Linked DNA regions of Homo sapiens. The protein of the gene in region 1 purifies or fractionates together with the protein of each later gene. This does not show direct contact. Each region holds a gene or a part of one and is shown on either strand. Other genes may lie near its edges. The genes, in order: NIM1K and SEPTIN9.

Region 1 (3,814 bases):
TAATAGTCTACAACTTGAATTAACCACATCATAGTTCTTAAATTACTTTCTCTCAAGAACTTCAAGGTTAGCTTAGCCATTATTATACAGCATCCTGAGGAATATTAATCAGTTTTACAGATGGACAAGTTGTGTTCAAAAGCCAAGTGATAGGTCGGTGCCGTGGCTCAGGCCTGTAATCCCAATACTTTGGGAGGCTGAAGCAGAAGGACTGCTTGAGCCCAGGAGTTCGAGACCAGCCTGGGCAACATGGTGAGACCTTGTCTCTATAAAAATTTTTTAAAAATTAGCTGGGTGTGGTGGTGCATGCCTGTAGTCCCAGCTACTGGGGAGACTGAGGGAGGAGGATTGCTTGAGCCTGGGAGGTTCAAGGCTGCAGTGAGCTGTGATTATGCCACTGCATTCCATCCTGGGAGACACAGAAAGACTCTGAATCCAAAAAAAAAAAAAAAAAAAGTGATTTCAGCTAACCACTTGGAAAATCGAGACAAAAATCTAAATTGTCTGACATGAGCATTATGAATATGAGCATTAGCCAAGACTTAAGAGAAATTCAGGGCATGGATAGCGGGAAGAATTTAAGATTAGAGAGCAAAATAAAACTGTTAAGGGGAAAAAACTGTAAGGAGAAAGCAGATTAATAGAAAGAAAGTAAAAGCGAAAACATCAAGTGAAAAGAGGGTTGCACAGAAGGAAAACGAAGTTGCAGAATAGGAAACTAAGAAGAACTCCACTCTTCATCTTCCACAGAGAACACTGATGGTTTTCCAGAAAGCAGTCAGTACCCTATTTAGCAAAATCGTGTGACTTGGGAGGCCTTAGCGGCAGATCTTAGTTCATTCTGACTCCCTGCCACCCATCCAAGTGGTGTGGGCTGAGGCAGCTGTCTTTTCGGGTCTCCTGAACTAGCTGCTCATTAGATCTTTTCTCCCTAATCCTAAAGCCATCAAGAAGCTTTCTGTGTCTCTATTTGTTGGAATTATCTAGTTGGGATAATATATGGATACACTTGATTACATAATTGCACTGAAATTTTTCTTTTTACTTTAAAAAATTGTTCAAATTGTTATCATCACAATGCATTCACCTAATTTTATGAGAGTATATTAAAAGCTTATAACTGGCTGGGCGCGGTGGCTTACGCCTGTAATCCCAGCACTTTGGGAGGCCGAGGTGGGTGGATCATGAGGTCAGGAGATCGAGACCATCCTGGCTAACACAGTGAAACCCTGTCTCTACTAAATATACAAAAAAAAAAAAATTAGCCAGGTGTGGTGGTGGGCGCCTGTAGTCCCAGCTACTCGGGAGGCTGAGGCAGGAGAATGGCTTGAGCCTGAGAGATGGAGCTTGTAGTGAGCCGAGATCGCGCCACTGCACTCCAGCCTGGGCGACAGAGCGAGACTCTGTCTCAAAAATAAATAAATAAATAAATAAAAAATAAAAGCTTATAACTAAAACAACAGTCCCAGTCTCCAGAGGCAATCATTTTGAACTCTTGGCTGTTTGATCACTTACCTCCCTATGTCCAAATAATTAGCTTATGTTGCTGTTTTTTCTTTTTTTCTTGAGACAGGTTCTCACACTGTTGCCCAGGGTAGAGTACAGTGGTGTGATCATGGCTCACTGCAGCCTTAAATTCCTGAGTTCAAGCAATCCTTCCCCCTCAACCTCTTGAGTAGCTGGGGCTATAGGTGCACGCTACCATGCCCATGCCCAGCTTTTTTTTTTTTTTTTTTTTTTTGGTAAAGACAAGGTTTCACTATGTTGCCCAGCCTGGTCTCAAACTCCTGGGCTCAAGCAATCCTCTCACTTTGGCCTCCCAAAGTGCTGGGATTACAAGCATGAGCCACCATGCCTGGCCACTGGTTCTTGATTTATCAATTTTGGACAGAATCTATTGACTTATTTATTTTTATGTTTTATTTAGAGGCAGGATCTCACTCACCTAGACTACAGTGCAGTGGTACAATCATAGCTCACTGCAGCCTAGAACTTCTGGGCACAAGTGATCCTCTCATTTCAGACTCCAGAGTAGCTGGGACTACAGGCATGCACCATCATGTCCAGCTAAGTTTTTTATTTTTGTAGAGTTGTCGGTGGTAGGGGGGGCGGGCCTCTCTATGTTGCCCAGGCTGGTCTTGAACTCCTGGCCTCAAGCCATCCTTCTGCCTTGGCCTCCCAAAGTGCTGGGATTACAGGCGTGAGCCACCACGCCTGGCCAAATTAGTTCTATTCTTGGCTAATAAAATACACCTTAGTCATTTTTAATCATGAAGATTTTTAAAGAGCCTTTTAAACTTTTTGGAAATTTGAAATGTAGCCAAATACTCCCTCAGATGTAATCAACAGCGCCAGCCCTTGAGCTCCTACAGAACACAGAGGTACTGATTTTTCCACCCTTTATACTGCCTCAATTTCCATGATCCATACTCCATACCCCCTCTCCCATTTTACCATTTCCCTGACCTACATTTCTCTATCTTTCAGTACTTGCTGAATCACACCTGGAAATTCCTTCAGGCCTTATCTCCTTCCAGATGTTCTCTTTTGGGCCCCACCCTGTCTGTACCTATCTCTAGTTTAGCCTTTGGCCATTATATTTAGACGATCTGTTTATGCATCTACCTTGCCCCACTAGCTGTAGATTTAGTTATATCTACATTGTTCCTGGGGGTAACTTGTACACTTAAACATGGAGGACGGAGCTTAAAAATAATGTTTGTTGAACTGAACACGTCATCTTGATATTGAAGGAGTATTCCATAGTAGAGTAAGAGGGGTAGCAACCTCACATTGCTTAGAGTAGGGGTGAGGGCAAGGAAGTAGGGGGAAAACATAATCTATTTCTTTTCTTTTCTTTTTTCCGATGGAGGAGTCTTGCTCTGCACCCGCACCTGGCCAATATGATTTCTTTCTTTCTTTCTTTCTTTCTTTCTTTCTTTCTTTCTTTCTTTCTTTCTTTCTTTCTTTCTTTCTTTCTTTCTCTTTCTTTCTTTCTTTCTTTCTTTCTTTCTTTCTTTCTTTTCTTTCTTTCCTTTCTTTCTTTCTCTCTTTCTCTCCTTTCTTCCTTCCTTCCTTACTTCCTTCCTCCCTTCCTTCCTTTCTGTCTTTCTGTCTTTCTTTCTTTCTGTCTTGCTCTCTCTCTCTCCCCCTTCCTCCCTCCCTCCCTCTCGAGCTCGCTCTCTTTCTTTCTTTCCTACTTTCCTTCCTTCCTTCTTTCTTTCCTTCTTTCTATAGTGAAAACTGTCTTTATTTTTATTGCCTTTTATTTTCAACAATGATTACTTGAACTTAAAAAAAAAAGAGCGGACTTTATTAAGTAATGATTACTGAAAAGCCAAACCTTTCCAGCCCACTTCATATTGTCTTTTAACCATTTCAGAACACGATCTATTTCTTATCCTCCTACTTTCTAGCAGCATCTGTTTAGAGGGGATTGCCTGTGGCACACACAGCTCCTGCTCATGAGACAAGGTGAAGAAGCCTCATCTGTTTTGTGTGAAGCACAGACCCTGAGGTCAGACAGTCTTGGGCTTGAAATTAAACTTGGATGTTAATTGCCTGTATGGCTTTGGACAAGTTACCAAGTCCTTCTGAAGTTTAGTTTCTTCATCTGAAAAATGAGGATAATAGCAGGCACCTTTTAGGGCTGTTGTAAAGATTTTTAAAAATATGTATAAAGGGCCAAGCACGGTGGCTCACACCTGTAATCCCAGCACTTTAGGAGGCCAAGGTGGGTGGATCACCTGAGGTCAGGAGTTCGAGACCAGCCTGACCAATATGGAAAAACCCCATCTCTACTAAAAATACAAAA
Region 2 (3,611 bases), on another chromosome or scaffold:
CTCTTAATCTTCCAGGGCCTCAGTTTTCATCATCCACAAAGTGGGTGCAGTGTGCCAAGATTTTAGTGAGTTGAGAGACTGTCCCAAAGACCACAGAGCTTTTTGGGAAGCTGTTGCTCTAAAAAAATGGTCATAATGACAATTACCAGGAGGCATCAGACACTCCTGTGCCACTGGCTAGACATGGGTTATCTCGTTTCATGTCCGAAGCTCCCCGCACCCACCCTCCTTGCAGAGTTGAAGAGGTGCTGTGAGCAGAAAACCTGCCAAGGGACCCAGAACGGGAGGCGGCTCTAGAATCTACAGCTCCAGCCCTGCACCAGACTCCCTCGAGATGGGAGTTCATGCCTGGAGGAGGGTGTGGAGAGGCACACGGGCCTTTCCCCTGTCTGCACTCCTCCCCTACCACCACCCCTGCCGGGCCCACCCTGCGGGAGCTGCCCAGCTGGGTGCAGCCTGGGTGTTTTCCAGTATCCGCCTGTGGTGTCAGGCTGGCTTGCCTCCCCTTGGCCCCTCTGCCTGCAGTTCCTCTCTTCCTCTCTGCCCAAAGAGTTCTTGCTGTTTAGGAAACTTTTTATGAAAGGCAGGTTTGGGAGAGTTAGGGATGGATGGGCCTGGGACGGGCCGGCGGCTTTGCTATGGGCGTGCCTCTGCTGCACCCTGGTGGCCAACCTTGAGTACCGCAGGTGGCCGGTGACAGAAACTGTCAGGAAATGCACAAGAGAGAGGTCCCCGCACCTCTCTGACCTGTGCGTTGTTGAGCACCACTGGCTCCAGCTGAGGAAGAGTCTGGAACCTGTCAGGACAGTTGTGAGGTGGTGGGGCCCACTTTCCAGCAGTCTTATATGAGGACCCTGGAAATGTGCCTTCAGCACTGCTGGGTTTTTATATCAGGGGCCCCATGAGTTCATAGCTGACCTGACACCCGGACTAGTAAGGGCTGTGCCTTGTTCTTGCCTCCCACTTGGTGAACAGCATCTTGAGGTATCTTTCCCATCCTTAGAAACCACCCCAAGTATTGTCAATAGAAATGTGGGGTGTAATTGATCACGCCATGAACTCATTTAATCCTCATGTCCCTGAGAGGCGGGTGACGTTATTATCCACATTTTATGGATGAGGAAACTGAGGGAATGAGAGTAACTTGCCCGAGCCAGGGAGTGGCGATCACACACTCCAACTCCAGCCTGAGAGCCCCATTCTTCCTGCCGGCTCTCGCTGCCCGTCAGTGTTAGATGAGAGTGCTGCTGGTCAGTCTGCAGGAGGTTCTAGTGTGGACACCGCCCTACACAGGGCCGTGGCAGGAGGGCCTAGGCAAAGGCAACCGGCATAGCACTGAGAGCACTTGAGGGCTGGGCAAGGTGGAGGCCCCGGCCCTGCCTGCTGGCCTACCAAGTAAAAACTAGACATTTTTAACTTGGGGAAAAGCCATGTGGCTCTGCGATGGGGCAGCCTGGAGCCAGGTGTATGGGTTCTGCATCCCGCTCCAGCCTTATGCACTGTGGAGCTGAGACAGACACAGTTCTTGCGTTCTCTATGCCTCATTTTCTTTTCTTTTCTTTTTCTTTTTCTTTTTTTTTTTTTTTGAGACGAAGTTTCACTCTTTTGCCCAGGCTGGAGTGCCGTGGCGTGATCTTGGCTCACCACAACCTCCACCTCCTGGGTTCCAGTGATTCTCCTGCCTCAGCCTCCTGAGTAGCTGGGATTACAGGCGCCTGGTACCAGGCCTGGCTAATTTTTGTATTTTTAACAGAGACGAGATTTCATCATGTTGGCCAGGCTGGTCTCGAACTCCTGACCTCGTGATCCACCCACCTCAGCCTCCCAAAGTGCTGGGATTGCAGACGTGAGCCGTGGTGCCCAGCGTCTACGCCCCATTTTCGTAAGATAATGGGGATAACAAAGGAATCACAAGAGACACTTGCAGGTGTGTGAAGACGAAGTTCATCACATGGGAGGGCACCGGGTGTCTTTATTTGCCTTCCCTGCCCGGCTCCCCACCTCCAGTGATGCCGTTCACTGCCCTCCTTGTTAAAAGGCCTTCTGTTATATAACAGTTACACATGCCAGGCACCGCGTGTTCATATAGGAGTTACGAAGCACAGCAATAAAATGACCACTCTGAGATGGCCACCAGCTCGAGCCCGAGGGCACTTGTGGGTGCCCGTGGTCTCCTGCCCAGTCTCCCTGAGAAGTGGCCACTGTCCCGAGCTTGGGCTTGTATGTATTGTGTGAAGTGCACATGTCCCTGAGCAATGTTTAGCATTGCTGATTCTTGAGCTTGTGAATGGTCGTCCACAGTACGTAGCCCCTGTGTGTGTCCCTGTGTGTGTGTGCTCTGAGCGCACACAAGGTGGATGGGGCCGTGGGGGTAACACCCTGTGGGCCACAGGTTTTCTTTAAAATCCCAGCTCCGATTCCTGCTTCATCCCATTCCCAGCAGCCCAGCCCCCTGCCTGTCTTCAGGCCCCTGCTGGGACGTCCTGCTCTCCCTGGTCACCCCAGTGGTGCGGGGGCCCACTGCCCTGGCTTCTCCACTGTGGCTTCCTTCCATGCTCCTATTTGGCCTGGTCACTGTGCCATCTCCCATTAGCCAGGAACTTTCTGGAGAGCAGGAGCTGAGCTGTCCAGGAGCAGGAGCTGGTGCTGGTCACTCCAGTATCCCCCAGACTGAGGGCAGTGCCAGGTGTCCTATACTCAGCTGCAGAGCAGGTGGTTCCCCTGCCCTCCTGCCCATGGGGCTGCCCTCAGACTCTGCTTTTGGCACCAGCATTTCTGGGCAGGGGGAGAGAGGTGGGGTCCGGGCAGAGTTTCTCCACTGGGACATTAAAGCCCCTCCTGTCTCCTCTCCTAGTTGAAAACACCACACACTGTGAGTTTGCCTACCTGCGGGACCTTCTCATCAGGTGAGAGACAGGGTGCTTGGGTGGGGCTGACGGCTTCACCCCTAAGAGGGCCCTACAGCGGGTGGGGGCAGTGGGTGTGGGGCCGAAGCCCTGGGCAGAGTGGGTGCCCCCTGCCACCTGCCTGCCCTGCCCTCGGGAAGATCTTGGAAGCCCATCTTCTGAAAAAGAAAACCCACTGGGAAATGAAGCAGGCAGTGAAGATCCTTTTCAACCCCTGCGAAGTTGGCTGGATGGGAAGGCTGAGCTTTGATCCACTGTGGTCTGGCCCGTTAGAGCTGCCCGGTGGCCACTAAGGGCCCAGTGAGGCCTCATGTGCAGGCCCTGCCGGCAGCGTGGGGCGTCTCCAGCTCCGATCCCACTGGCCTCTGACCCCTACCCCTTTCACCTGGCTGAGGCTTCTCCTTGTTTCCCTTGAGTCCAGGCAAGGAGGGGAAGCCCTGATGGAGAGGGTGCTGGGTGGGTGGTCCCTGGAGTGTGGGCCCTGGCCTGGGCAGGTTCTTCCTCAGCAAGCAGCTGGCATGGATGATGGGAATGTTATCAAGAGGAGGGGCCTCCAGGTTGGCGGGGGCAGGGGTGGGGGGATTCCGGGAGCCGTTCTGCCATTGTGGGGATACTGGGCTTTCCAACCTCCCTCCAGATTATTCCTCCTGAGCTGCAGAGGAATGAAAATCCGAGCCCAGGACTTTTTTTTCCTGGGGACAAGGG

The links.
Region 2: the proteins of NIM1K (region 1) and SEPTIN9 purify together in Homo sapiens (affinity purification with mass spectrometry; one large-scale study listed by BioGRID and IntAct). This does not show direct contact.

What each region holds. Positions count from the first base shown.
Region 1 is NC_000005.10:43,195,225-43,199,038, forward strand, and holds part of NIM1K (serine/threonine-protein kinase NIM1), read left to right. Parts: intron 1-3,814.
Region 2 is NC_000017.11:77,494,461-77,498,071, forward strand, and holds part of SEPTIN9 (septin-9), read left to right. Parts: intron 1-2,854; coding exon 2,855-2,906; intron 2,907-3,611.